2 separate regions of the Homo sapiens genome follow, and region 1 is linked to region 2. The links come from fine-mapping of genetic effects on plasma protein levels. Region 2 holds a variant in brackets. A gene starts in the other region. All regions are shown on their reverse strands.

Region 1 (15,440 bases), not on the chromosome of region 2:
TTAAAACATTTTTGGGGGCTGGGTATGGTGGCTCACACCTGTAATCCCAAGACTTTGACAGGCAGAGGCGGGTGGATCACTTGAGGTCAGCAGTTCCAGACCAGCCTGCGCAACATGGTGAAACCCTGTCTCTCCTAAAAATAAAAAAATTAGCCGGGTATGGTGGCATATGTCTGTACTCTCAGCTACATGAGAGGCTGAGGCACCAGAGTCATTTGAGCCTGGGAGGCAGAGGCTGCAGTGAGCCAAGATCTCACCATTGCACTCCAGCATGTGTGACAGAGTGAGACTCCATCTGAAAAAAAGCCAAAACAAAACAAACCAAAAAAACCCTAAAAACAATTTTATTTTTTTGGTAGACATGAAGGGGGGCAGTGGGGTGGGTTTCGCTATTTTGCTCAGGCTGGTCTAGAACTCCGGGCCTCAAGTGATCCTCTTGCCTAGGCTTTCCAAAACGCTGAGATTACAGGTGTGAGCCACCATGCCTGGCCTGTTTTTTTTTTCTTTCTAGAGGTGAGTAATAGTCTATTGTGTGGATGTACCATAGTTTATCCTGTAATCCACTGAAGACATCTTGGTTTCTTCCCAGTTTGGGCCATTATAAATAAAGCTGCTTTAAACATCTGTGGTCTTTTAAATATTTCATCTTCTTTTCTAGTAAGTTCACTCATTTTCTTTAAACATGTTTTTTACTTCACTTTTAAAATTTGTGTTTCTAAGGCTAAGCTGCCTAACTGTATTTGTGGCGATCTAATATATTTGTCTTGTTCTTGTTCTTACGGTGTGTCTTAGGGTGAGTTCTCTAGGAAACAGATTAGGAGATAAGAGATTTCCAGCCTCTCAGAAACAAGGAGCTGACTGAAGCTGAATTGGGCATAGAGAGAAGTTAAACCATGGTGCAGTCAAAACAGACGCCTCAGCCAACTAGATGGGGAACTATGAAGTTGGAGAAGACCTTCAGAGTTCCCTTGAATTGAGGCAAGGAGCCCAACCTTTTTTCTTCCACACTAATCAGTCTTTGGATGTGTTCTGTCCCCAGGGAAGTTGTGTAATCTTTTGCAAGGCACATACCTTTGGTGGAGGGCAATTTCCTGGGGGGAACTAAATTGTGAGTTTTTAGCAGTCAAAACTCATGGAAACTGGGGATATAAGTTCCTTGGTTCTGAAAAGAGAATGGTAGGTGGTACTTCATAATGTTCACTGCAGCTTGATAATGGATTATTTTAGTTTACATCATTTTTAAGCCATAATTTTCCAATTAAATTTTAGTTTTTTTCAAAGACTTTCTAATTACCTTCTTTTTTTCCTTTAGAGTAAATAATAAATAAATACTTTCTTCACCATGTCACTGAGTATGTTCATGTTCTCTTTATCCATTTCTATCTACTGCTTGGAACTCATTCAATTTTTTCTTGAAAACATTCCCCTAGTTGTCTATCAATTTATCTTAGACCAGTTGCTTTCTAAGCCTCTTGTATCTCCCTCTTTTCTCTTTCACCTCTTAAGAGGTGTATTCGTTTTTTATTGCTATCATAACAAATTACTACACATTTAGTGGCTAAAATCAACACCCACTCATTATGTTGCAGTTCTGTAAATCAGAAGTCTAGGTACAGTGTGGCTCAACTGAGTCTTCCACTTAGGGTCTTACAAGGCCTACCAAGGTGTCAACAGGGCTGAGCTTCTTTCAGGAGGCTTTGCGGGGTGAATCTACTTCCAGCTTATTCAGGTTGTTGACAGAATTCAGTTCCGTACTTTTGTAGAATTGAGGTCCTCAATTTCTTGCTGGCTGTTGGCTGGGGTCATCTCAACTTTTAGAAGCAGCCTTCATTCTTTTGACTCATGATCTCATTTCATTTCAGCCTATAATTGTGGATTGAGTTCTTATACTTGGTTTATTTATTTACCTACTTATTTATTTGAGCCAGAGTCTCACTCTGTTGCCCATGCTGGAGAGTGCAATGGCGCAATCTTGGCTCACTGCAACCTCCATCTCCCGGGTTCAAGCAATTCTCCCGCCTCAGCCTCCTGAGCAGGTGGGACTACAGGCATGTGCCACCATGCCTGGCTAATTTTTGGATTTTTAGTAGAGACAGGGTTTCGTGTTGGCCAGGCTGGTTTCAAACTCCTGACCTCAGGTGATCCACCTGCCTCGGCCTCTCAAGGTGATGGGATTACAGGCATGAGTTATCATGCCCGGCCAGAGTTCTTATACTTTAAATCTCTCTAACCTCTCCTGCTTCATTTTTTCTGCCTCTAAGTGGAAGAAGTTCTCTGATTTTTAGGACTCACATGATTAGACTGAGCCCACTGGATAATCCAGGATAAACTCCCTATTTTAAGGTTAATAACCTTAATTACACTTACAAAGTTCCTTTTTCCATGCAGTGTAACATTAACAAATTTCAAGGATTAGGACATGGACATCTTCGATGGGTCATTCTATCTGCCACACTCTTGTATTTTACATCTATCTTATTTTTGGATTTCATTCTTACTTTTCTGGAGTACATATTTCAGAAAGAGTATATGATAATTGAACTTTCTGAAATCTTTATTATGTACTCATAATTGAGTTTTGTTCTGACAGGAAATAGAATTCTAAGTTCAAAATAATTTTCACTTACAATTTTGAAGGTATTATCTTTCGGTATCTAAAGTTTCTGATGAGAAATCTGATACTAGCTCAATTCTTAAATTCTTTTATAAAAGGTCAGATTCTTGTGACTGGAAGCTTTTAGGCCTTTTTCTTTATTTTTGATGCTCTGAAATGGCTTCTTTATGTGTCTAGGTGTGGTTCTTTTACTATTATTTTGCTCAGTACTAAATGTGTTCTATCAATTTGGAGACCTGTATTTATCTTCAGTTCCTCGAAGTATCTTTTCAATGTGTGATATTTTTCTCCTCCTCCTCTTGTTCTCTCTTTCAGAAATTCTTATTAGTCAAATAATGAATTAGTCCTCCATTTTTTTCTCAAAATTCTCCATGTTTTTGTTTGAATACTGCAAGTTTTGTGATATTTTTTCAATTAAATCATCTTGCCAGTTTAATTTTTACATTCATGTTTATTTTCAACAGTCTTTTCTTATTCTCCAATGCTCCTTTTTCAGAGTATTCTGTTCTCTAATATTTTCTTGAGTACTTCTTAGGCAGCTTATTATTATTAATTTCTTATTATTTTATTTTGGTTCCTTAGCTGACTCAGAGTCTTCCTGAAATGGTTTTTAGTTTTATCTTTCATGCTGTTGATTTTCATATCTCTGATGGTTTTTCATTCTTCATTCATTTTAAAGACTCAGGCCACGTGCCGTAGCTCACGTTTGTAATCCCAGCACTTCAGGAGGCCAAGGCGCAAGGTGGGAGGTTGCTTGAGCCCAGGAGGTTGAGGTTGCAGTGAGCTATGATCTAAGGCCATGTCATTGCCCTCCAGCCTGGGCAACAGAGAGAACCCCCGTCTCTAAAAAAAGGAAAAAAAAAAGAGTGGAGTTCTAGATAGATGTAAAGAGACAAAACACTGGGGAGAGGAATCTGGAGGAACTGAAGTACAGTGGTTTCCTAAAGAGGTTTTAAATTGACATTTTGTTTTTAGCCCCCTTCTCATTTCCACCTTCTACTGTACAAGGGAACTCTATTCCTGGAGTCTCTCTGGGACTTTGCTAGGTAGATCAACTCTCTGTGAAACATAAGTCATCTCTGGAAAATTATAGGATGCCACTTCAGTGATCTGTTTCATTTGTCAACAAGTTTCCATATTTCTTTTGATCTTTCCAATAATTTTTTAAATACCTAGTCTGCTGATGGTCCCTCTCCAGGTCACTTCAGCTTTAGAAATTAATTTATTGGCTAGGCATGGGAGCTAATTCCTGTAATCTCAACACTCTGGGAGCCTGAGGCTGGAGGGTCACTTGAGACCAGGAGTTCTAGACCAGCCTGGGCAACACAGCAACACAGTGTAAAATTTAAAAAAAATTAGCTGAGCATGGTGGCATGCTTCTGTAGTCCTAACTTTTCAGGAGCTGAGGCGGGAGGATCCTTTGAGCCCAGGAGTTTGAGGTTACAGTGAGTTATGCCACTGCACTCCAGCGTGGGTGATAGAGGAACTCTTGATTTATTAAGGCTTTAGGAGGCAGACTAAACAAATATTTATGTCACTACCTTTTCAAAGCAGACATTTTTATTTACATTTGGCTGTCTCTGGAATTTCTGGTCTGATTACCATTGTACCAAATACATTTTAGTGTCCCATACAGCAATTTTTGTATTATTATTCTTTTTCACAGTTTAGTAAGTTATTTTTATAGAATTGTTGTTGAGATGGTCTTTGGAATACCTTTGTTCAATTCAAGAAAAATATGAGAATTTTGATTGCATCAAATTTAGGTTTAAAATATAATTAGTGTAACCACCTGTCTTATCTTTAGTAATAGATGATTAGACCCCAAGTTTCAGCAGAGCAGTTTTCCATCTAGAGATTTCTTGCCTCAACCTCCCGTGAAGCAAGAAGTGGTTGTCACTAGTTCTCACTAATTAAATATAATAAAAGTGATGCGTGTAAATTCCCTGTCACTCTCTTAAAAGGACACCCTATTGAAAACCTTTTAAAATCTGTTTGCCCAAATTATTTGCTTATAAAACGCACTCTGAGACCAAAAGCATCTCACAAAATCCTAGTGTTTCAGGAATGAGGTTTGAGAAACACTGGTGTTTAAGTATTCTGCCGATCATATTTAAAAAAGTATTTTCTAAACCCACTTTATATCCTAATAGAAAAGGTGTTACCTATTATTCAGTGCCTTTTTGACACTGAGATGATTTCCTTAACCTAACATTATAATTATTTAACACAGATTTATATTTTGAATTATCTTTGCACTTAACAAAAAAAAACTCAATTTAGTTATAGAGAAATGTTCCTTTAAGACAGTATCAAACTGACTTTGCTAACATCTAGGAATTTTGCACTTAAGTTCACAAATGAACATCAAACATGAGTCAGGCACTGGGGATACAATGGTGAGAAACATGCATAGCCTTCATCATCACTGAGCTTACACTGAGTGACTTTAAATGTTCTTTTAGGATGTGAAAGATTATGGCAGCTTCAAAAATTAAGCTAAGAAGCTCTCCATCATTTTCTATGACTTGAGTTTAAAGCACAAGATTTAGCTCTTATGATTTTTAATCATAAATCTGAGTGGGCTGGAGGCTTTTTATTTGTGAGTACAGAACTTTGGCATCTTTGTTCCAGTCCTGTCTGTAGTTATTGACTTAATTCAGTTTTCCACCTTTTTTGAGTTATGTTTTCCTTGAAAAGTGACTATTTCATTTTCTATTAATATTTATTGGCGGTATAAAATTGTATAAAATATTTTAATAATTTTTAAACCTCCCTTTTATTAAATTACCAACCTTACTAGTGGCACTATTCCTTTTCTTGTTACACTTCCTATAAGTCTTTGAATTTCACTGGTATTGCCAAAAACCAGCTTTATACTAGATTATGAGTACTTTATCAATTTTACCAATTTCCTTTTAAAACACTGTTCTCAAACTTTATCTTTACTAATTTCCTCTTCCTAATTTCAATTATACAATTTGTTCTTCGTTTCTAACATCTTCAAATAAATGCTTGGCCTATTTTTATTCTTTCTTATTTAAAATAATGTTCTCCTATAACTTGGTCTGTATCTTAAAATTTTAACATATAGTTTTTTTCAATATCATTATGTTCTAGTAACTACAATTTCTCTTTCCTTTTAGACTCAAAGGTGATTTATAAAGGTACTTTAAAATTTAAAATACGAACAAAATAAAAGTTCCACTTTTGTTTTTTAGGGGTGCTATCCCTTAGCTAATTTTTAGCTTATTCTATCATACTATCTTTCCTTGTGCAAATTTAGCCCATCCTTCTAGGTCTAACGTTTATGTCACCTCCTTTAAGAAGCATATCTTGTGTTCTCTCCCTTCTCTAAAATTTTATATACATCCCTTAAACATATAATGTTTATATATTCTCCGCCTTCAACTCCCATCCTCAGGCTATTTTATTCACGTTTATGAGATTTGCTGTTTAGCTCAGTATTTTGTGGATTTTCAAAAGATTCCACTCAATTTACCGAGCACCTACGCACCAGACATTTTATTAGGTACAAGGAAAAGCGTTAAATAGATATAATCACGGCCTCCAAGAAATTGAACCTAGTAAGAGACACGAATAAGCAGACATTCAAGTGAGCTTTAGGAGACTTGGTTTGGTAGTGAAGACAGTCTCATGTGTGTTAACAGCTTACAGCACTGAAAAATAAGAGACAGAAGGGAACAAATCCGTTTCAAACAGTTCAAAGGAGGAAAGAGAGGGAAAGGTGGTTTAGATACAGCTAAATCATAAATAGCCTGATAATCTAACCCTGTGATAATCCAAGTACAGCCACAGCACCTGCCTCAGAATCACTTGGAAGGCTTGTGAGGAGTAAAAACGCAGATTCATACCTACTGAAATTAGAATGGAGAAACGGACATTTAAGTCTGCATTTTAAACACATTCCCCAGGTACTGAGGCCATTCCAAGTTTTAGAACAGAGCACAGCCAATTTTCGCAGACCTTGTTCCTCAAGTACTCCCTCCTTCTAGCCGGAGGGTGGCCTGCAGCATGTCCCTTCCCTTCCCACCGCCGAAGCTGTCCATCCAGTTTCTGAATGGCGGCCCACAGACCGCACGGCTTTACGAGAGAGGAACACAGCGCCCACCCGCCAAACAGCCACACAGGGATCGGAGGCCGGACCCGCAAAGGATTCGGGGAAAAACGCATCGAGCCAATCCGAAGGGCGAGAGCGGCCCTAGATTGGGGGGGCGGGGGGGCGTTAGGAGGTGGGCGGGGCACAGAAAAAAAATTTTTTTTTCCTTGATTGACGTAAAACCTACCCAATGAAAATAGAACTGGTAAAGCTTCCGCCCCCTAATAGGCAGAACCATAGCGACATTTCAACCAATCCAGCTCAAAAGTGTCTATGTTGTGGGAGGTCCCTGAGGCCGCTGAGGTCGTTCGTGTCTGTTGAACGGCTGTGGGCGTCTTGCTGCCTTGGGTAGGGGGTTAAAATCGTTCTTGAGAGGAACGTCTCTGTGCGAAGAGATAATGAGTTTAGCTCTGAGGTCGGTAATAAGGAGGCGGCAGTGCTCTCCACACCCCGGAGCGGGGCCCAGGGAGGGTGTGTGTGGAAGGGAGGACGTTTGGGGCCGAGGCGAGGCAGGGGATGTAGTTTGGGACGCGGGAAAGGAGCCTAGGGCAGCCTGCCCGGATCACTCACCCTCTGGGCTCTGATGCCCTGCAGGGAACGAGACCAGTGCATTTCTGCTAAGGAGGTTATTTCTGTCAGCGCGTAGGGCTTTGGACTGCCAGAAGGTTGGGCTTAGTTGCGAGCGAGGTGGGAATGAAATATCGCGAGGCTTCTACTCTTGTTTCTCAGATCAGGTCGCGGACATCCCTTCATTCATCCGTGTGCCTGGTCAGGGCCCCACCTCGGCTGCTCCGCTGCTAATGCAATCACCCACCTATAAATTTTGGAAATAACAAAAACTCTTTCCTCTTCTCCCAGGGCCCTGCTTTACGGTGTAATTGGAGACCCATTTTAGTGACTTTAATTGGCAGTCTGTCTCTTGGATTTCCTAAATTTCTTGCATTTTTTTACCTTTCAGTTCTAACCTCTAACCCTCTGTTGCCCTCTCCCACTATGTAGACGTTGTACCGTAAAACTATCCATACACTTACGACACTCCGAAAATATTCCATGTTCTGCTAAGGGATAATCATGGTACCCTTGGATGGGGTCAGGGGTGGGTCGGTTCTGGACTTGGCCTCCAAAAGTCTCAGGAAGGAAAAGACTGACCCCAGGAATACCCAAGTTTGTGTCAAGTCAGGTCTCATGAAAGGAAGATCTTCCTCAGCTTTGTTATACTGCACCTACTAGTCACTTCCTAGCTTTTTTTTTTTTTTTTTGGAGCTTTCAGAGACCAAAACGACTTTCAAATGCAACTAGATAGGTGTTTTAAGTACAGTCAACTGGTTTGACATGTTAATGTGTTACCGGATTGTGTTTCAAAACTCGTTATTCCAGTGTTGCGGCTCCATTTGAAAATTTGGAGCACATTTAGATGGGCAGCTCTTAAGGAAAACATTTCTGGCTTTAAAATAATTTTTGCTTTTTTTCTTTAAGCGTTTCCAGAGTTTATGAGAAGTTAACCTCCGGTTTACATGTTAAATGAGACAAGACTCATCACATTTTTATATAGAATGAAGCACAAACATTGTATATTGGCATCTAATATTTGTCATATGTTTAGACTCATTAATATTTTCGATGGTTTGTTAATATCAATGGAGGAAATGACACATAAATTGCCAAACTGTTAAAAACGTGTAATCTAAAAACATTTTGAACCAACAGTGCTAAAATACTGTATAAGTTAATTCACTTTTTTTTTGTAATTTTATGAACATAATTATCAGAACTATCAACAGTAAACCGATATATAGTGATTGTCAGTTATGAATTTTGGTTTCATTTGGAGATTTTTTTTAAATTCTTTAACATTCTTGTAGGATAACGTGTTTTTGTTTTTTTGGTTGGAGTTGGTTGGAGTTTCAGACATAAAAGTAGTGTTGCTTATTCACAGTTCTTGTTTCTTCCACAGTAACATTAGTGGGAATAAATAAAAAGCTGGGAAAAAGAAAAGTTTGGTCCTCATTTCTTTTAATAATCTGTAACACTCTTTAGTTTTGCGAAGTTCAGATTTATAGCAATTTAGACTATGGAATAAACAGGTCATTGACTCATAAAGGGAAAGTTTCCCTATCTTTCTCCAAAGTACTTTCTTTTTTGAAATTTAGAAGGTAATTATTGGCTAATTTCTGTTAGTAAAGAGAATTAAAGTGGACTAAGGGCTTTTTCTTTCCATTTCATAGAAGTGAGCTTGTAGTGGACAAAACAAAGAGGAAAAAAAGAAGAGAACTGTCTGAGGAACAGAAACAAGAAATTAAAGATGCTTTTGAACTATTTGATACAGACAAAGATGAAGCAATAGATTATCATGAATTAAAGGTAATGGTATACTTTAAAATATTTGTTTCTGTGTTAAAATGATTTGCATTTTTACAGTTGCTTTACATTACATTTCTAAATAATTATTTTAACTAAATTGGTTTTGGAACTATGAAGGCATTTTAAGCATTCATAGTTAGATGCTGTAATAAAACTGAAGAGAACTCCTAACATAGTTTTTAGAAAATCTTTTTCACATGAGAAAACGAATAGTATTTTAAATGTAAAAATACATTCCCAGGGAAGGTGCTTATTTTTCACTGTCATAATTAAAGGATTTCAAACTGGAATTTATTCTTACCATCTTCTTTTCACTGTTTTTTGTTTTTGTTTTTGTTTCTTGGTGACTCATACTGTTTTCAGACTGTGGGAGTGTTGTCTTTTAATCTTATAATTTGGATTTGTTAGTAACATAGTCTCAATCCACTTTCTCTGGTGCAAACAACTTTAGTGCTGTTTGATGTTGACACATGCTAATAGGTAAAAATGTCAGCTTTAAGACCTAGAATGTCAAAGTGTAGGGAGAGATTTGTAAATTATTATTTGTCAGGGTATAAGGAGAGATTTGGGTTTAGGGTAGAATGGGACTTACTTTCAGCACAGTGGGAAAGATAGTATTTTGAGATTTTTAATGGCCTTAATGGATAGGTGAATGTAAGTGTTTATTTGGTAGTTTTAATTTTTGTAATTTCGTAAGGGATTTTTAAGCATTAGAATTCCAAGTAGGGATAGGAACTATGCAGTGACAGGATAGAATGTATAAAAGCAGTTAATAGGCCTGCTAAGTCTAGCTTTCTCAATCTTGCAGTCCTCTTTGGCTCTCTTTTCCCACTGTTTTTTTTGTTTTTTTTTTTTTTTGGTTACCCAGATTTGATCTTCCTTTATAATGTCTGTTCCATTTGTAACCATTGACTATCTTGGTTTGGGACCTTATTTCATACCTGGAGCTTCCTAAATGATTTCTTACTAGTTCACCTTGTACACTACCACTGAATTTAGATAGTTTAAAAATTCTTTCACCATTGCTCATAAATTGTTCATTGCTCATAAACCATAACTCCTCATTGTATACTACTTAAAGTTCAGATTCCTTTGCTTTCTACTGAATGTTCTCTACACTTTTGCCACCAACTACTTTTTTCATTTGCTAACTGCTTTCTTCCTCCTGAACTCTTCTAATTAAGGTGGAATTCACCTCCTAATTCAGGTGAGCAGTTTACCTCACCTGAACTTTTCTAATTCAGGTGAGGTAAACTGCTCTGTTCATTGTCCTTCGAACCTATTCGTTTCAGTGTTTCTTTTAATACCAGTCATCCTTCCCAAATACCCTACTGCTCCTCTTCATCTATCCTTCAAGGAACAGTTTGAATCTTTCCAAATAAGACTTCTCTAGTCAGTAATATGTCTCCTTCCTTATTATTAGTAACAAAATCTCTTTTTTCTCTAAACTCAGGGTCCTTAGCCCTATCATTTACCTGGTAACTAATCATGGAAAGACTGATGATAATTCTTGTTTTAATGTTTTATCTCTTCTATCATGTAACTGTTTAATATTTATGCCACGCCTTTTTCTCATTTTGATTGTTAATCCCTTCAGAACAAATAACAATCAAATTATCTGTGCAATAAGTTAGTGCATTTTATATAGTAAAATCTGTAAACACTTGTTGGTTACTTTGTCATATAAAAAATGCAATTTATAAATGAAAAAACTTATGCATACTTAATTTCAGTAGTGAAGAACAATTACACTATCACTGCTATTTTAAAGAGGTAAAACATGCAAAAAAGTTATATTTTATTAATGTGTTGTCATCTCTTAAGATGTAAAAACTTAATAATTAGAAATTCTTTTGTAAAGAGTGCTTTATAATTTGCTTTTCCTTTTTAATCCAAAAGGTGGCAATGAGAGCCTTGGGGTTTGATGTAAAAAAAGCTGATGTACTGAAGATTCTTAAAGATTATGACAGAGAAGCCACAGGGAAAATCACCTTTGAAGATTTTAATGAAGTTGGTGTGTATTTTAATAGTCTTTGTAATCAGCAGCTGTTAGGAAATTGTCTGATTAATATCACTTTTTAAATTTTAAATTCTCTAGGTTATGGAATTTTCTTATAGAACACTGGTGTATAATGTGACTCTTACTCAGTTTTGTTTTGTTGGTTTTTTTTTCAAAGAAAAAATATGGCTTTGCTCTGAGATTTATAGTTTTGTCTTTTGTTTTGTTGTGAAGATTCTAACCAAGGAACTATTGTGTAGCTTTTTATAGAAAGATGCTTTTCCAAGTTGTTTGTATTTATATTATGTGATAAAACTTGAAGGGTGATCAAAAAATTATTTTTGCTTAATAAAACAGAAAATTTGATATCCTGCTGTTTGGAAAATGTTTCCCAAGACCTTTCTGGTATGTGATTTTTGTTGGCTAAGTGGGAGAAGAGGGAACTGGTAGTAGTTGGTATCTTTGGCTGTAGATGAAATGCACGACTTCAGGTTGACAAAGTTTATGAGAGGCTACATCCTCTGGATGACCTTGATCTCAGTGGATAAAGTCATCTGTTTAGAGGGTAGTAGTAAAGGAGGCAGTGGGCATACTGGAAGCAGGAGAAAACATCCTAGTACCACCAACTGAAGATAATGTGTCATAGGCTTAATATGGCTAAATTTTTTTATAGTTGATTTTAGTGAATTATTTATAGCATATATAGACCAGGCTTTTTCAAAATAGAAGAGTCCGGAAGGCAAGGATGTTGCTATTATAACTTAAATGTATTGTCTAGAATATTATCTACAAAATATGTAAATATTCAGGTTTATTTCTTTTTTTTTTTTTCTCTAAACCAATGGGTCACGATATAAGCACATCATATAAGTATTTTAAGATATTTTAAAAATTTGGAAACAAATTCTGCTATATACACAAACCCCTTATTTTAAATATTAATCAAGAAGCAATAGGGGAAGCAAAAAGAAATGGCAATTAGTAGACGCAGAGAAAATTTAGATTCATGTCATTAGTCAGTTTTTTAAATCCAAAAGCTCAAGTCATAAGCAGTTGAGATGGAAAATAAATGATGAACCTAAGAGAAAAAAAACACAGCACAGAAGATCCTCAACTTATGAACTAATATATGACTGTTTAGAGAGGCAACTTGTCCATTGGGGACATTTTCCTTTTTTCCTCTAATTTGTAGAATTAATTATTTGAGGAAAGGGAGAGAGCCACCTTTTGTTCTCCCAGAATGGACACTCTCCTGAAGTTTATGATCGTAGTATTCCTAGTTTTACCTTAGATTGTTTATTTGTAGAAACAAGGTGTTTGTATATAGTGGAAATGGTACTATTAGGAAGGAGCTATAATCCAGGTATGTTTAGTACAGTATAGTGGTTTAGCACTTGGAACCAGATTCCCTTGGTTCATACCTTGGTTTTGCCACTTTACAGCTCTGGAACTTGGTCTTTTTAATACCCCATGCCTCATTTTCAACTATAAAGTGGGGATCATTGTATTCTCTCATGAGATTCTTCTAAGGATTAAGTTAATGATATGTGAAGTACCTAGAAAAGGGCCTAGCATGTTGTAAGTGCTACTAAGCATTTGCTATTATTATTACTTTAAAAAATTGTCTTTGTTTCAGGGGCTCGAAATAATCATATATGCATCACTGGGACATAAAATAGACTTTGTGTATATTTTTTATTGACTTTTTTCATAAAGGCTATTGTAAGCACTGTATCATCACTAATAATTTTACAAAATATGTTATTTCACCTTAAATGAACACAATTTAAAAATTGTGATTTTTTTTTTTTTTTTTTTTTTTTTCTTTTGAGACAGAGTCTCGCTCTGTCGCCCAGGCTGGAGTGCAGTGGCGGGATCTCGGCTCACTGCAAGCTCCGCCTCCCGGGTTCACGCCATTCTCCTGCCTCAGCCTCCCAAGTAGCTGGGACTACAGGCGCCCGCCACTACGCCCGGCTAATTTTTTGTATTTTTAGTAGAGACGGGGTTTCACCGTTTTAGCCGGGATGGTCTCGATCTCCTGACCTCGTGATCCGCCCGCCTCGGCCTCCCAAAGTGCTGGGATTACAGGCGTGAGCCACCGCGCCCGGCCAAAAATTGTGATTTTTATTGGCAGTTGGGACCAGAATCCCATGCCACCTCCACTTTTTCCTGACACCCCATCTGTTCTATGTTATTAACAGAGCAGAAATACTGGGTTCCTTCTAGAATAAATAGATGTGGCTAAACTTCAGCTTTGACACTAAAAGATTAACCTTTTGACAGGGTCAACATGTATCTTAGCTATCTTAAGGCTACCTATGGAGAGTACCAGGTGTCAAATAAAAATGTATTACTGTTTGGGAATCATTCAGGAACTATGTATTACCCCTTTTGTTGATTATTTTTAACTAATCACTGACCACAGATTAATATGTTTTATACTTTGGGACAGATGATTCTAAATCATAACATTTGAGTCCTAGTTTTATGAACTACCCAAGGACACTGTTCCACAGATATATCTGGATGAAGTTTGGCAGTTAACTATTATAGACTCTTCCTAGTACTGGAAAAAAGCTTTAAAATATATTTAATTTAAGTTTAGAGTCAAGACAGCCTGAGGCTAGTGAGTAACATAGATATTTTAGGAATTAGTGTCTTTAAGACTAACATAAGTCAAACGTTTGTACACTATTTTTGACATGTACTACTTATTATTGCTGATTGAGATTGTAATACTGTATTATTGTCTTCATTTTGCTTATTTAACACTGAATTTTTTGGTATTAGGTACTGTACTGGGGTTGGGAAGAAGACTTAATTAAAAGTTACTAAAAGGTTCTTCTTTCAGGGAGTTTACAATGTAAATATAGGTGACAACAGGCTATAGTACTATGTGGTAAATTGTAATTTTGTCTAGGACAGAAGTCAGCAACTATAGCCTTTGGACCAAATTCAGCTGCTGCTTGTACACCACCACACCCCTTCTTTTATGCAGCTTTTGTGCTACTATGGCAGAGTGAGTAGTTAGAGACTTTATGGCCCTCTACAAAGCCTAAAATATTTACTATTGGCCTTTTACAGGAAAGATTTGTTAATCCCTGATCTAGAGGAATTGAAGTCTTTGCAGAGGAGATTTTAAATTTAGGCCTTTGGAAATGTGAGTAAGATTTCATTCCAAGATTGCCAGGAAGAGTAGAGAAAAAGCATTCTAGGCTTAGAAAGCAGCAACAACAAAGAATGGTACTAGACGGATAGCATGTTTGGGAAACTAGGTAGTGTTCTGGGCTAGACATAGGGAAATGACTGGAAACATAGGATTGGGCCAGATTGGTAAAGTCTTGCAAAACATGAAGATTTTGAATTCTAGTCAGCAGAGATCATTCACAATTTTTAAGGGAAGGGGATATGATATGTTTGAGAAAGAAAACTGATGAGAGTATTATTGATGATGAGTTGGAAGGAAGAGAGACTGCAGACAGAAAATACTATTTTTTTCGCTGAGGATGGCGAGGGTGAAAAGAAAATACATTTAAGAATAAAAAAGAGGCTGGGCTTGGTGGCTCATGCCTGTAATCCCAGCACTTTGGGAGGTCAAGGCGGGAGGATTGCTCGCTCACAGGAGTTTGAGACCAGCTGGGGCAACAAAGTGAGATCCTGTCTCTACAAAAAAATTTTAAAAAATTAGCCAGACATGATGGCACATGCCTGTAGTCCCAGCTACTTTGGAGGTTGAGGTGGGAAGATTGCTTGAGCCCAGGAGTTGAGGCTGCAGTAAGCTGGGATCACGCCATTGCACTCCAGCCTGGGCAACAGAGCGAGACCTTGTTTTAAAACAATAAATAAATTAGAAAAAAAACAGTATTCTCAGTACTATAGGACCTGATTAAGTTTGTGGGACTGAAAATGATTTATGCTTTTCAAATATGGAATCTAGCTGTAAATGTTGCTGTTATCTTTTGGTTGGGGTAGGGGAGGCAGCTGCAGTTACTATGGTGGTAGTGGAATGAGTTTGGAGTCCAACATGTCTAACTGGTATGTTTGGATAGAAATTTCCGAAAGACATTGAGAAATACAGTTAAAGCTGTATTTCTAGCATTACCTATAATAATTTTTAATTTACTTTTGATGTGATGTTTTTGGATTTGCCGTATTCTTAAGTGATTTTTACACATTAAAGGTCTAAGAAAGTATTTTGATGAAGTACATTTCTGATAGTATGTGTAATTAAATCATTTGAAAATACAGTTGCATGGACAGAAATTTGGAGTTTTGTGAAATAAATGAAACCCACCTTAACTGCCTCTATATCAGTTTACTAATATTTTCATTGAAAATAAATATAT
Region 2 (15,440 bases):
GGCTGGTCTCAAGCGATCCTCCCACCTTGGCCTCCCAAAGTGCTGGGATTCCAGGTGTGAGCCACCCTGGAGCCACTCTTGGCTCTTCCTCAGTGGTGACAGGCGCCCAGGTCCTGAAGTCTCTGGTTGCCACTGAGGCTTTACCACCTCAGTTGATTCTGGTATACTGGTGGTCTTTGCCACCATGAATAATGTTGCAGAGCATACCTTTGCACATAAAGCCTTTTCCTCATGATGAAAGCCTACGTGTAGGATTGCTGCCTGAAAGGGTATGGACACCTTTATGGTTTGTGGCATGCATTTGGCTTCTAAAACAATCGGAGTGTTTCCCCCTTATCCAAGGTTTCATGTTCCTGCAGTCTGAAAATATTAAATGTAAATTTCCAGAAATAATTCCTAAGTTTTTAAATTTTATCATTATTATTATTATTTTTTGAGATGGCGTCTCACTCTGTCGCCCAGGCTGGAGTGCAGTGGCGCGATCTCAGCTCACTGCAACCTGCGCCTCCCGGGTTCAAGCAGTTCTCCTGCCTCAGCCTCCCGAGTAGCTGGGATTACAGGCTTGTGGCACCACACCTGGCTAATTTTTTTGTGTGTTTTTAGTAGAGATCGGGTTTCACCATTGTTGGCCAGGCTGTTCTTGAACTCTTGACCTCAGGTGATCTGCCCACCTCAGCCTCCCAAAGCTGGGATTACAGGTGTGAGCCACCGCACCTGGCCACAATTCCTAAGTTTCAAATGTCTCCCTGTTCTGAGTAGCATAATGAACTCTCTCTCTCCCACCTAGGATATGAATCCTCCCTCTGTCCATTGTGACCTCAGTGTCTATGCTGCCTGCCCATAAGTCACTTAGTAGCCATCTCAGTTACCGTATCAGCTGTCGTGGTATTCTGGTGCTTGTGTTCAGGTCACCCTTATTTGGCTTAACACTGGCCCCAAAGTGCAATAATAGCAATTCTGGCAATTTGGATTGCCGAAGAGAAAGTGGTAAAGTGCCTTCTTTAAGTGAAAATGTGAAAGTTCTGGACTTCAAAAGGAAAGAAAAAAAATCATATGCTGATTTTGATAAGATCTATGGTAAGAGTGAATCTTTTATCCGTTAGTTGAGCATGATGTCGAGGTGGGTGGATCACCTGAGGTCAGGAGTTAAGACCAGCCCGACCAACATGGTGGAACCCCTCTTCTACTAAATACAAAAAATTAGCCGGGAGTGGTGGTGCATACTTGTAATCCCAGCTACTTGGGAGGCTGAGGCAGGAGAATCGCTTGAACCCAGGAGGTGGAGGTTGCAGTGAGCCGAGATTGCGCCATTGCACTCCAGCCTGGGCAGCAAGAGTGAAACTCCATCTCAAAAAAAAAAAAAAAAAAAAAAAACACCGGGTGTGGTGGCTCATGCCTGTAATCCCAGCACTTTGGGAGGCCGAGGCGGGTGGATCACCTGAGGTCAGGAGTTCAAGACCAGCCTGGCCCACATGGTGAAACCTTGTCTCTACTAAAAATACAAAAATTAGCCAGGCGTGGCGGCAGGCACCTGTAATCCCTGCTACTCGGGAGGCTGAGGTGGGAGAATTGCTTGAACCCAGGAGGCAGAGGTTGCAGTGAGCCGAGATCGTGCCATTGTACTCCAGCCTGGTTGACAGAGCGAGACTCCGTCTCAAAAAAAAAAAAAAAAAAAAAAACAACCAAACCGAAACAAAAAGGATGTTTTTATTTTAAGTTTTTATTTCACAGAATGATGTCTCTAGAAAGGGTAGCTTGAGGCCTGGAGTGGTGGCTCATGCCTGTAATCCCAGCACTTTGGGAGACTGAGGTGGCGGATCACTTGAGCTCAGGAGTTTGAGACCAATCCGCGCAACGTGGTGAAACCTCATCTCTGCTCAAAATACAAAAATCAACCGGTGTGGTGGCATGGGCCTGTGGTCCCAGCTACTTGGGAGGCTGAGGTGGGAGGATTGCTTGAGCCAGGAGGTAGAGGTTGCAGTGAGTTGAGATTGTGCCACTGCACTCCAGCCGGGGTGACAGAGCAAGACTCTGTCTCAAAAAAAAAAAAAAAAAGTAGCTTGAAATCGTGTTCTGGAAAGCTGCTTGCTGAGCTGCTCAGGTTGAAGACCCAGAGTGTTCCTTTTAGTTCCATTTAGCCCCGTCGCGTGGAGTGTGCGCAGCTTGAATAATGCTTTTTGGCTTCCAGAGTGCTATTCCCTTGAGTCCCTGATTCAACCTGTGGCCCATCAGTGGGCAGAGGTGATTTTCTGCAGGGTACCAAGGGCACTCTTGAAGGCAGGAGCTCAGGGACTGCTGAGAAGTAGAAGAGCCGCTTCTCTGAGTTTCTTTTCAGGAACTCATGATGTCCTGGGAACATTCTTGGTTCTTGGCCTGAGTGTTCACTTGGGTTCCACAGGTGTGGCTTGTGGCTTTGGCTGTTGACATAGAGGCCTGTGCTCAGAGCCGCGGTGAGTGAGCACAGACAGAGGGTGGGTGGCTACCAGGTACAGATCTGTAGTTTATGGATCCATAGTTTATACTGCTGCAGTGGTCATATGTCCTGCCTTTGTGTGGCGGTTGTGATTTCAGATATGCTGCCTATTTGTCCCCAAAAGTCATAAAAAAAATCATTCAGCAATCATGTCATATTGCCTGTTTCCTCTTTTCCTGAAATTGACAAATACTGTTTTAGATTATATCTCAAATTTTTGGTTACAAAACATCTAATTGAAAATATACACTTTCAGCTAGGCATGGTGGCTCATGCCTGTGATCCCAACACTTTGGGAGGCTGAGGTGGGAAGATTGCTTGAGCCCAGGAGTTCATGACCAGCCTGGCAAGGCAAGACTCTGTCTCTACAAAAAAATACATTAAAAAATTAGCCAGCCTGGCCAACATGGTGAAACCCCGTCTCTACTAAAAATGCAAAAACATTTGCTGGGTGTGGTGGCGGGCGCCTGTAATCCTAGCTAATTTGGAGGCTGAGACAGGAGAATCACTTGAACCCAGCAGGCGGAGGTTGCAGTGAGCCGAGACTGCGCCATTGCACTCCAGCCTGGTCAATGAAACTCTGTCTCAAAAAAAAAAAAAAGAAAAAGGAAAAGAAAAATTAGCCAGGGGTGGTGGTGTGTGTGCCTGTGGTCCCTGTTACCTGAGAGGCTGAGACAGGAGAATCGCTTGAACCTGGGAGGCGGAGGTTGCAGTGAGCTGAGATCATGCCACTGCACTCCAGCCTGGTGACAGAGCGAGACGCTGTCTCAGGGGGAAAAAAAGGAAAAAAAAGACAGGCTCTCACTCTGTCATCCAGTCTGGAGTGCAGTGGTGTGAGCAGGGCTCACCACGGCCTCGACCTCCCAGGCTCAGGTGATCCTCCCACCTCAGCTGAAACTGCGCCATTGCACTCCAGCCTAGGCAATAAGAACGAAACTCTATCTCAAAAAAAAAAAAAAAGAAAGAAAAAAAAAATGGAAAAGAAAAGAAAAATCAGCCAGGGGTGGTGGTGTGTGCCTCTGGTCCCAGCTGCCTGAGAGGCTGAGGCAGGAAGATCTCTTGAGCCCAGGAGTTTGAGAGCAGCCTGGGCAACATAGCAAAACCATGCCTCTACAAAGAAAAAACCATTAGCTAGTAGTAGAGACAGAACTGGTTTTTGTGGCAGAGGCTAGGGAAGGATGGGGGCAGATCTCTGAGGGGAGGAGTGGCCTGCGGGTGTCCTTACTACCCGTTTTGCCTCTCTTGGGGCAGCTGTGTCATTTCCTCTCTGCCGGTCTTCTTGGCCAACAAGCGTTTCTCCCTCTTCCCTGTTCTCCCCACTTCCCCACTTCATCCCCCTTCATCCCCCCTTCCTCGCCCCTCCACAGACCCAGGGCATTTGGTGGACACTTTTGCTTGCAGTTAGGTCAAGTGGAGGTGAGTTTCCCATGGGGCAGGGGCTTGACAGCAGGGGTGGCCGTCCAGACTCTCCAGAAGGGACGTGGGGCTGCTGTTGTGACTGGACCTGCCCCACATCTTTGGGCCTGAGCTGTGCCCGGTCACAGCGTCCTGAGTTCCTTTGTGTTGCCTCTGCCCCGTGGATCTAGGTCTTGGGGGAGGGCTGGTTTCATCCTGGGGCTACCACCACCTGGCAGCAGCCCCACAGCCAAGGGCAGGCACAGCCAAAATACATCTGCCTGAGTGGCCACAGAGCAGGGCCAGGCTCTCCTGGCCCAGTGGTTTGGAGGACAGAGGGCCTGGCCCGAGGGGAGGCACTTGCTCAGCCTGCGGCTCCCACGCCAAAGGCAGGGCGGCCTCTGGGTCTGTCTGGGGCCGAGCCTTATTTCTGGAAGCACATGGATCCTCCTTCCTTGCCACTCAGTCTAAATGTTTAGGTTACAAACATTCTGAGTGAGAAATTTCAGTCAGAGCTTGTAATGTGTAGGACGTGACATTAGGGAGTGAAGAGCTTTCCTCTTCACTGATTCAAGATAGCCAGTGCCGGGTGAGGGGAGCGGGACACTTGCTTCTTCAGAAGAGTGGATCCAAAAGTTGACCTCTTCCCCAGACTGAGTCAGCATGGGAAGAGAATTGTGCTTTCACAAAAGCAGAGATGCTTTTCTGTAGCTTTCACTGTTTCTTCTTTGCTCTGGAAAATGGAGGACGAAGGAGTTCTCAGGTCCTCAGTCACTGGAGTAAAGTGACATGCACGTCCCAGCGTGAGTGCCTGAATGGGTCTCTCAGGTCTGAACAGAACAGCCCTGTGGCTGCCGCGAGCTGGTGCAGGAGGAAGTACAGAGGAGGGTCCGGTTCAGAGTGGCGTGAGACCAGGGTTAGATGACTGTTGCCAGTTTAGGGCCAGTGAGAGATTTTTAATGGTAAATATGTAACCTCTTTTAAAAAAAAACAAAAACAAACAAAAAACACAACTTTTTCTTTTTTGAGAGAGTCTTGCTCTGTTGCCCAGGCTGGAGTGTAGCGGTGTGATCACAGCTTACTGCAGCCTCAACCTCCCAGGCTCAAGCGATCCTCCCACCTCAGCCTGCTGAGTAGCTGGAATTACTGGCGTGCACCACCATGCCCGGCTAATTTTTCTATATATATATATATATATATATATATATATATATATATATATTTTTTTTTTTTTTTTTTTTTTAATTTATTTATTATTATTTTTTTTTGTAGAGTTTTGCCGTGTTGCCCAGGCAGGTCTCAACCTCCTGGGCTCAAGTGATATAGCTGCCTTGGCCTCCCAAAGTGTTGAAATTATAGGCGTGAGCTACTGCGCCCAACGAATATGTAATCTTTTTAAAAAAAGGGAAAAGGTTGGGCGCGGTGGCTCACACCTGTAATCCCAGCACTTTGGGAGACCGAGATGGGTGGATCACGAGGTCAGGAGTTCAAGACCAGCCTGGCCAACATGGTGAAACCCCGTCTCTACTAAAAATACAAAAATTAGGCTGGGCGTGGTGGCTCATGCCTGTAATCCCAGCACTTTGGGAGGCTGAGGTGGGCAGATCACAAGGTCAGGAGATCGAGACCATCCTGGCTAACACGTTGAAACCCCGTCTCTACTAAAAAAAATACAAAAAATTAGCCGGGCGTGGTGGCGGGCGCCTGTAGTCCCAGCTACTTGGGAGGCTGAGGCAGGAGAATGGTGTGAACCTGGGAGGCAGAGCTTGCAGTGAGCCGAGATCGTGCCACTGCACTCCAGACTGGGAGAGAGAGTGAGACTCCATCTCAAAAACAAAAAAAAACAAAACCCAGAAATTAGCTGGGCGTGGTGGCGGGTGCCTGTAATCCCAGCTACTTGGGAGGCTGAGGCAGGAGAATCGCTTGAACCCGGAAGGTGGTTTTATTGTTTTGAGGCATGGCCCTGGGGGCTTGTGGCAAGGGCTGAGGTGTTTGGGGAGCAGCAGTGCAGGAAAGGCCTTACTCAGCTGGGCTTGCAGGTATGCTCACTCCTGTCTGAGCGCTGCTTCCTTGTTTCTAGCCTCCGTTTAGAATAAAAAAAAAATGTATAGTACAGTATTCCAATTCATCAAAAGGAATAAAGACAGATCAGCCTGTCTGGTCTACCACCATTCAGCCTAAGCATAAGGCAGAACCCTGTGAAGTGGCCTGTGTCCTCCTTCTCTCCCTGTCCCCTTCCTGGAGCCCCATGGGCCTGTGCTCAGCACGCGTCCTGGCGCCGCGGTGTACCTGGTAGTGGGCAGTATCGGACGTGTTCTCCATGTTGGTGAGCGATGTACATGCTGTAGCTTTATTATTCTCATCTATAAATAGGGCCATTCATGCCCTCATAAAGTTGTTAAATAAGAGTGATGTGTATGTAAATACCTGGCCCCATGCTGGCAGGGAGTGGAGCTTTAGTACTATTTTACTTCTTACCTAATAGGTGTGAGTGTGGAAATGGGCAAATAGTCAAGTTGGCAGGGAAGCAGAGCCTCCTGCCTGCCCCAGTGCCACCTGAACTCCTGTAGTGTTCTTATGCCACTGGAACTGGCTGGCAGGGGCCAGCTCTGACCTCAGAGAATTGTGGGCTCACTCTAGGGCAGGAGGAGATCGCAGAGGGCGGAACGGTGGCTCATACAGCCATGCCCCCAGGTGGCCCAGGACCCACCTGGGAGCTACCTCCAATGGCTTTGAGCGGTCAGTGTGTGGACAAGCGGAGGGACCGTGTCTCAAGAATATGTGGAACTCAGCGGGGCATGGTGGCTGACGCCCGTAATCCCAGCACTTTGGGAGGCAGGCAGATCACCTGAGGTCAGGAGTTTGAGATGAGCCTGGCCAACATGGTGAAACCCCATCTCTACTAAAAATACAAAAATTAGCCCAGTGTGGTGGCAGGTACCTGTAGTCCCAGCTACTTGGGAGGCTGAGGCATGAGAATTGCTTGAACCCGGGAGGCAGAGGTTGTGGTGAGCCAAGATCATTCCACTGCACTCCAGCCTGGGGGATAGAGTCAGACTCTGTCTCCAAAAAAAAGACATGGAACTTAAACACAAGGCTAAACTTCTGGGCTGGAAGGAATCGAGGGATGGCCGACTCAAGATACCTGCAGCCCTGCATGAAGCTGTCTGCCAGGAGGCTCTACCTAAAAGCAGTTTTGTTTTGTTTTGTTTTGTTTTTTGAGACGGAGTTTTACTCTTGTTGCCCAGACTGGAGTGCAATGGCACGATCTCAATTCATTGCAACCTCCACCTCCCAGGTTCAAGCGATTCTCATGCCTCAGCCTCCTGAGTAGCTGGGATTACACGTGCGTGCCACCACACCTGAGTAATTTTGTATTTTTAGTAGAGACAGGGTTTCACCATGTTGGCCAGGCTGGTCTTGAACTCTTGACCTCAGGTGATCCGCCCACCTCAGCCTCCCAAAGTGTTGGGATTACAGGCATGAGTCACCGTGCCAGGCCTAAAAGCACTTTTTCTTTTTCTTTTTCTATTTTTTTTTTTTTTTTTTTTTGAGATGGAGTCTTGCTCTGTCACCCAGGCTGAATGCAGTGGCAATCTCAGCTCACTGCAACCTCTGCTTCCTAGGTTCAAGCGATTCTCCCACCTCAGCCTCCCGAGTAGCTGGGATTACAGGCGTGCACCACCACACCTGGCTAATTTTTGTATGTTTAGTAAAGATGGGGTTTCACCATGTTGGCCAGGCTGGTGTTGAACTTCTCACCTCAGGTGATCTGCCCACCTTGACCTCCCAAAGTGCTGGGATTACAGACACTAAGTCACCACGTCTGGCCTAAAGCACTTTTTCTGAATTCCACCCCAGTCTGCCCTTCCTGAGTGCCTGGGCAGGGCCCTTGGGGAGCTGCTGGTGGGGCTCTGAATGTGCCAGGGGTATCCGGGACATCTTGCAGGCTAGTGGGACTGCCAAAAACGATTCTCAAAGATGAGTGGGGAGTTGGGCAGGGATAGGAGAATCTGGTGTGTAGAGAAATAGCCTGAAGGCACTTTGTGCTTGCCTGGCCTCTCTGCCCAGACGTTGGGGAGGCTGATGCCTGCCTGTGGTTTCTTGTACTAGCCGTTAAGACCCCAGCCATCTTCCTTGAGGGGCTTCTGCCAGCCCCCAGGGAATGAGAATTAGCCAAGAGCCAGGAAATGAGAATTAGCTGAGGACACCTTTTACCCCTGTTCCGCAGCTACCTTCTGTTCCCTGGCACAGGGCATCCCCTTAGAAGTAGTGCATGAAATTCACACAGCTGGGACCTGGCAGAGAATACAGGTGGCTTGACTGAGGCAGGGAGGCCTCCATCTGCAGGTGGCCTGAGAGCCTGCAGAGCCTCACAGTGGCACTAGGTGGCACTCCCACCCAAGGGAGTCCTAACAGAGTGGGAGGCGTGGAAATAAAGGACTCCATGGCCTGAAGGAAATAAATACAAGGTAGGAAAGTAAATTTCCAGACAATTTTTTTTCCCTAATGGAAATTCACTTGTAAGTGATTGTTCAAAATCCAGAGGCATTTCCCCACTGAAAATATGTGTGGTGGAGGTCTGGTTGGAAGGTGGGGTAGTGCTAATCTCGGCCAACTTGTGGGCTGGTTTATGGGTTTCGTTTGTTTGTTTGTTTGTTTGTTTGTTTTTTGAGACGAGTCT[C/T]GCTCTGTCGCCCAGGCTGGAGTGCTATGGTACGATCTCGGCTCACTGCAACCTCCACCTCCTGGGTTCACGCCATTCTCCTGCCTCAGCCTCCTGAGTAGCTGGGACTACAGGCGCCCGCCACCATGCCTGGCTAATTGTTTGTATTTTTAGTAGAGATGGAGTTTCACCGTGTTAGCCAGGATGGTCTCGATCTCCTGACCTCGTGATCCGCCTGCCTCGGCCTCCCAAAGTGCTGGGATTACAGGCATGAGCCACCGCGCCTGGTGGTTTACGGGTTTTTAAACACCCATCTGCCTTAGAGGCTTAGAATGGCTAAAAAGCAATGCCAGTGGATGCAGTGCAGCCGAGCTGGCCATTCCACAGGGAAGAGTGTGAGAATCCCAGAGATCTCTCAGCACATGGGAGGTAGAATGTGTGCAGAAGCTGGTCTTTCCTCTACAGACCTTTCTCCCCTGGTCTAACTGGGGCTTGGTTTTGTTCCGTCCCCAGGGACCTGTGTGGGCTGGTCTGTAAGTACTAGAGGCTTTGAGGAGGCCAGGATGGTCTTCCAGGGTCTTTCCAGTTCTGGAAGTTGGTGGTGGCAGGATTCTGCGTCAACATCTTTCTGTGCTTTAATTGCATTTTATCCCATGTCATGTGTTTCCTTGGACCTCTGAGGTGAGAAGGGGTCTGAAGTTTCTTTGGGGCTCTGAGAATGCTGGGATCAGTTACAGTAAGTTCTCAATCTTGATGATAGGTTCTTGGGATCTTCACCTTTAAGCAAAACATAGAATGAAACCAGTTTTACCATAGGCTGATTGATAGAAGCAAGAATTAAGTTCCTATGGATGTTTCTGACCACAAAAACATCACCGAACTTTTAAAGACCCCAAACATTTCTAATATTAACCATTGAAATGTGAGCTATACATGCATTTATGAATGATTAATAAAAAGTTAGATAATTATTTACCTAATTACTCCATTTCAGGGTTGCAGGTGGTCCCCTATCCGATGGGCAGCTCAGGGCACAAGGCGGAAACCAGTCCTGGATGGGATGTCTTCCCATGGCAGGGTGCACCCACACCCACACTCACTCAGACTGGGACCATTTAGACACACCAGTGAGCCTAATGTGCATGGCTTTGGGATGTGGAGGAAACTAGGGTACTCAGAGAACACCCATGCAGACATGGGGAGAACGTGCACACTCCACACAGACAGTAGCCCTGGCTGGAATAGATTTTTTTTCTCATCAGTGTTATGATGACACTATTTGAGGACCTCCCGTAGTGATGTCTGGACAGGAGAATATTAGGAGCAGCTTTGTATAAGGTATCTGCCACCCCTGTACCACATGCTGAGGCCCTTAGGGGTGGCACTGTGCCTTGTTCACCCCTGCCTCCCTGTTCCCATGGGTGCATTGTAGGTATGGAAGAACATGGAAATCCATGGAGGAGGACCCTATCTGTCTTCTTCCCCCTGCCGCATCCCAGGGCTGTGGCTTGTCATGTGGCACTTGCTTGGGCTGGATCCAGGTAAGGACGACAGGTGTATGGGGCTGTGACTGTACACCCTTATGTCCTATTCCAGGCGTGGCCCCCACACCATTTCTCCGCAAGCCCTACAGACCCTCTCCTCCTGTTCCAAACCTTAATTCTTTCTTTCTTTTTGGTTTAAAAAAAGAGGTCTCACTATGTTGTCCAGGCTGGTCTCAAACTCCTGAGCTTAAGTGATCCTCCCACCTTGGCCTCCCAAAGTGCTAGGATCACAGGCATGAGCCTTCATGCCTTAGTTGCTTTAGAAACAAAGATCTCAGTGGTGAGAAGCCGCTGGAATTGTATCCTGTTCAGTGGCTCAGAATGAGGAGACTGAGACTTCTAGGGCCAACTCACCATTGAATAGGGAATGGGCGTGCTCAGTTGCTCCCACAGATGTGAACAAGGCTACTTAATGCCACACCTTTTCTTTGGTTGAATGGTGATCCCTCTCAGACCCTTCCCCTCCCCTAAAAGCATTAAGCTGATTGGTCTGATCCCATGTGGGCTGAGTGCTTGTCGGATGCCTGGCACCATGTGGGTACGGGGTGGACTGCCAAGCCGCAGACTAGGGCCCTCCGATCTAGCGGGGTGGGAAGACAGCATGCATCATCCATCCCATGGGCTCTGCATCCTAGTAGTGAAGCAGGGAGGCCTGTGTGCTCTAGGCTGGGGCGGTCGGACCTTGTTTCTGGCTGCCCTTGTTCGCTGGTCTACATCAGTTTTGGAGTCAGGGCATTCTGTTTGTCAGGGTTTTGCGTGCCTGGAGGGCAGAAGGTTGGGGTGGGAGCAGCCTTGTAGCTTCAAGATGGGATGCGGGAAGGATCAAGGATTTCGCATTCTCTGGAGCTTCCTAGGGCTAGCAGGGGTGGCTTTCTGTTCAGTCCAGTGAAGAAGCTGGTCCTCAGTGAGGTCAGCAGCACGTGGGGTCCTGAGTCTGCCTAGTGTTGGGTCGCGGGTGGTGGAGGGGAGGCAGCTGCTTTGGGAGGCCAGCCACGGGCTGCAGACAGGCGGCTCACAGACCAGCGGACAGACTGAGGACAGACAGGAGGCATCCCTTGGGAGCAGCCGGGCCCACCTTGCTGGTTGAGTGGGGTCCTCCCGTGACAGTGACCAAGCAGAGCTGGTGTCTGCTGCCCTTCCCCTTCTCCCTGGCCTTGGCCCTTCCTCTTAAAGGGGCCCTCGGGTTGGGCGGACGGCCCAGCAGGACTGGGGCTCAGAGGGGGCGGCAGCTTTAAGGGTGGCTGGGGTCGGCCTCCTGCCCCCGCCCCTGGTAGTCTGAGTGGCTGGAGCCCGAGCCCCGCCCACTCGCCCCAAGGCTTCCCGGCTCCGGGAGCGCCCCTAGGGAGTCGGAGCCCGGAAGCTGGAGCCACCTGCGGGTGAGTGAGCGGAGCCGGCGCCCCGGCCCTGCCGGGAGCCCCAGGTGACTTCTCAGGGAGGCGCCCCACCCTGCCCGCTCAGAGGGCCAGTGCCGGGTGGGGGTGCCCTTCTAGGGCCTTCGGTCGCAGGTGGGCTCTCCCAGCTGTGACGACGCGGCCCCGGCCTGAGGAGCCCCGCGGACAAGGTTGAGCGAGTCGTGGGCTTTTTTTCCGTCCCCACGTGGGCACGGCCCGGGCTGCGTGAGCTCACTTCCTCCACATCTTATCTCCTGCCGGGCGCGGGTACGGGAAGTGAAGAGCGTACGGGAAGTGAGGCGGCCGCGGGAAGTGAGGGGGTGCCTGCAGTGAGGCGGCTGCAGGAAGTGAGGGGGTGCCGGCTGGCATTGGCGGGGCCCGGGCTGAGAGCTCCGTCTCCTTGGTGCTGCCGGAGGGCCTGGGGGCAGGCCGCCTGGGGAAGAGGGCGGCGCCCGAGGGCCAGGGAGCGGGTGGCCGGCTTACTGCCTTTGCCCAGAGCCGGTTCCCCTCAGCACCCAGAGTTGTCTGAGAGGAGGTTCCCTGTCTTTGGGCGGCTAGGATAGACCCCTGCGAGTCCTGCCTGCCCTCTTCCCAGGGCCTCCTGGGCTGCCTGCCACTGACTCTGGTCCATGTCGCCCAGGGAGGACCATTTTCCCCGTCTCCTACTTGGGAAGTTTGCCTGCTTCTAGCTCAGGAATGCAGGGAAGGCAGGGTTGTCGCCCCACTAGACGCACGCCGCTGCATGGTGGCCAGGCCTCAGCTGAGCTGGGGAGAAAGTCAGCCCCTTGCCCCCACCCTCGCCCCCGGGGGAAGTGCATGGCCCGCAGTCAGGCCACTGGACACAGGATTTGGGGCCCTGGAAGTTTCTGCTGAGGCTTCAAGAGGGGTGGTCCTGGCGTTCCAGGCGCTTCCCATCAGACAGCAGGAGCCAGTTCTCAGGGTCCTTGGCTGAACACACAAGCTGCAAAGCTACATATACTCCGGCAGAGCTGGCTGCGGGCTGCAGACTGCAGGTGACAGTGCCATATCCCTCACTGCCTGCTCCGCCTTGCTAAGGCTTGAACCAGAATCCACTAGGAGCAGGACTGTAAGTGTATACACGCATACCCCTACACACACACACCCCTGCACCTACACACACCCTCATGCACACACCCCCTACCTACACACACCCCCTCACCTACACACACCCCTTGCACCTACACACCCATACACGCACGCGCCCCCTACAGGCACACACCCCCTCACCTACACACACCCTCGCACCTACATACACACCCCTATATGCGCCCACCCTCACACCTACGCACATGCCTCCTACATGCACACACCTTGCACCTGTGCACACCCCCTCCAGGCACATAACCTCACACCTACGCACACACCACCTATACGCATAACACACTCACACCTACACACCCCCTACACACACCCTCACACCTACACACCCCACACATCCTCGCACCTATACACGCACCCCTCCATGCACATACCCTTGCACCTGCACACGTATCCTCCATGCACACACACTTCCACCTACATGCACCTACCCCTCACGCACAACAATCTTGCAGGCCCCAACCCAACCTGTAGTAACTGCTGCCTGGCCTGGGGTCATTCATCGACTTCAGTTGGAATGTTCCATTCCACTGGGGGGGCAGGTGTTGTGGTCTTTACCCTGGTTGGTGAGGGACGGGTGGGGACACTGCCTTACTGCTCTGGTATGGATCCCCAAAACAGCATGTCCTGACAAAGGTGTTCCCCTACCCCCTATACGGTCCTATCAGCCATTGTTTCCTATTCACAGGGCCGGTCACTCCGCGCAAGTTTGGGTTCCTGTTTTAGAACTGCCACCTAAGCCCCTCTTATTTCATCTTTCCTGTGGTGGAAACCCCTGCCCCCACCGGAGTGTGAGGTTGACTTTTTGGAAAGAGAGGTGAGGTGTTGGAAGCCAGGTCTGAGGCTGCGTCGCGCTCCTAGGTGGAAGTGGGGTTTCTGAGCAGTTGTTCTGGGCCATGGTTGCAGCTGTGCTCTGAGCCTCAAGGGGGTGGCCAGGAGGAATTTCCTTTCCCATTTTCCAGATGTACAAACCAAGACTTAGAGACTACCTGTGACTTGCCAATGCCTTTCCCTGCTCTCAGGGCAGAGGTAGAGGAAGGCAGCCAGGATTGCAGTGACCAGGTTGTCATCAGCCACAAAGCCCTCTGAGTTCTCATGTTGCAGGTGACTGGCCCTTAGGCCATGTAGTGACATTAAAGTCCTATTGGTCACAACCCTAAACTCCTCTCCACAGAATGTCTTTGAGGCTTAGAAGGGAGGGAAGGTGTCAGTGCTTCCTCCATTCTGGATACCCTTCTTGCAAGCTCCTCATCCAGGGCCTGAGGCTCCCACCTCGTGTCACCTCAAGACAGCCAGAGAGGATGAAATCTTTGGCTTGGGCTTCCAGGGCTGTCATAGGCAGAGGGCAAGCCAGGATTTGAAATAGGGAGGCCAGAAACACTGCTGGCCAAGGAAGTGGCTTGGCCTTGGGAAGCAAGAAGGCAGCAACCTCTAGGCGCCCCTTCTCTCCATCCTGCAGCTCTGAGAGGGACAGACGGTGCTCAGCCTGTGTCCTGGGGCAAAGCTGGATTCATTTTCCTCCCTGGCGATCTTCTGGGGCCCACAGCTGGTGATATGGAGGCACTGACACCCTGGTCTCGGCGCTTGTTTTAGAAGAGGCAGAACAGTGATAAAGACAAGGATCTAAATGGGCAAGGACGCCCTGCCCTCACTGGGCTCACTGGCAGGTGCGGTGCCCCAGCCTGGCCTCTCAGGATGGTTCTTAGTCTCTCCAGGGCTCACCTTTCCCTGATGGGCATCTGACCTGGCCCCTGGCCTCATGTGCCTTGATTCCTCAGTAGGGCCCCCTCTGAGACCGGAGGCCAGACCCAGCCCCTCACAGCACCATGGGAGAATGAAATGCCAAGGCTCACAGGGGAACCTGCTTTGAGAACCCAAGGTTTTTGGCCGAGCTGGGTTTATCTGGGTTCATGTCTTTCTAATACATTCAGGGCTGTGGTCGTCACTGTCCCACATGGTAGGTCAGTGAGGAAAACTGGCAGGAGGCTGGGGCTCCCCAAGGCCCCTCCTCTCTGCCTCCCCTCAAGGCCACGCTTGCCTCCCTCTGAATCCTGGCTGTGAGCTCAGTTCCAAGCCTGCACTCTATAGACCAGGGAAAGAGCTTCCCCTTTGGAACCAGGCACCAGGCTCACCCCTGACTGCTATCACCCCTGTTTCCTGGGCAGATGGCAGGAGGCCAGCATGGAGCCTGGTGGGCCAGGGAGGGTGGGGCGTTTGCTCAGTATGTTGGCGGAGTGGTTGGAGTGACATGGCCCTGGAGGCCTGGACACTGGGGCTGTCTATGGGCCTGGGCCTCGGCCTTGAGATGCAATGGGCCTCTTGTGCCTGTGCCAATCTCCTGGTGCCGGCACCTTCCCAAGGGAGGATGCTGGTGTGTATCTGTTTGCTGGTGGGTAGGCGCCCTCCTGCCTGACCCATCTGCAGTGAGCTGTCCCCGTCACTCATTTAGGAGAGGGGCCTGGACCAGCCCCAGCCTGGATCGGGGGAGAAATCCACGCTTGTGTCTGACCTTAGTCACCTTATTGTCCTGGCTCCAAGAGGCCACTGAATCTCATACCCGGGGCTTCGGTGATTCTTGCAGGCAGGTTCCCGGGCGGAATCTTCACCTGTGTGGCTGAGGAGGGTTTGCCAGGGCGTCAGATGTTCAACCACGCGCGACCACAGCGATGTCTGAGTTAGGCCTCATGGCGGGCTGGCCATGCCTGGCCTATTCTTTGCTTTAGATGGCAGCTCTTGGGGCCACATTTCATCATCTAAGGATGGTGACAGGTGCCTGCCCCTTCCTGGGCAGTGGCTGGGGGTGAAGGACTGGAGGGGTGGGCTCCCTGTCAGCCCATATCCTGGAGGGCCTTGAT

Alleles and levels. Positions count from the first base shown, and alleles are read on the strand shown. Strength reflects both the effect of a copy and how common the allele is.
As copies of C replace T in region 2, the plasma level of the protein whose gene starts at base 7,038 in region 1 goes up (weak association).

Evidence for each region. A credible set is the group of variants that fine-mapping cannot tell apart. PIP is the chance, under the fine-mapping model, that this variant and not a neighbour inherited with it causes the effect. Protein levels are from antibody-based Olink assays in UK Biobank. Linkage for the fine-mapping came from a reference panel and not from the study's own genotypes, which makes the PIPs less certain.
Region 1: CETN3 starts here. The variant in region 2 is the best candidate, but not a certain one, in a credible set for the plasma level of the CETN3 protein (UK Biobank, PIP 0.70).

The regions. Positions count from the first base shown.
Region 1 is chr5:90,401,354-90,416,793 of GRCh38, reverse strand. It overlaps CETN3 (centrin 3), which reads left to right and starts at 7,038. Exons shown (of 5, transcript NM_004365.4): 1 at 7,038-7,149; 2 at 8,960-9,095; 3 at 10,995-11,109. The coding sequence starts at 7,133. LOC731157 (a long non-coding RNA gene) reads right to left here and starts at 6,794. Exons shown (of 2, transcript NR_105024.1): 1 at 6,490-6,794; 2 at 6,125-6,294. RefSeq lists an enhancer at 7,069-7,268.
Region 2 is chr22:31,626,815-31,642,254 of GRCh38, reverse strand. All of the region lies in intron 3 of PISD (phosphatidylserine decarboxylase), which reads left to right. Among named protein-coding and RNA genes, the nearest start is that of MIR7109, 13 kb to the right of the region's middle. RefSeq lists enhancers at 3,379-3,458, 10,187-10,874, 11,021-11,180, 11,598-11,892, 15,017-15,440 and 1 more and silencers at 8,101-8,150, 11,251-11,670. The variant C/T (reference allele first, on the strand shown) is at 8,553.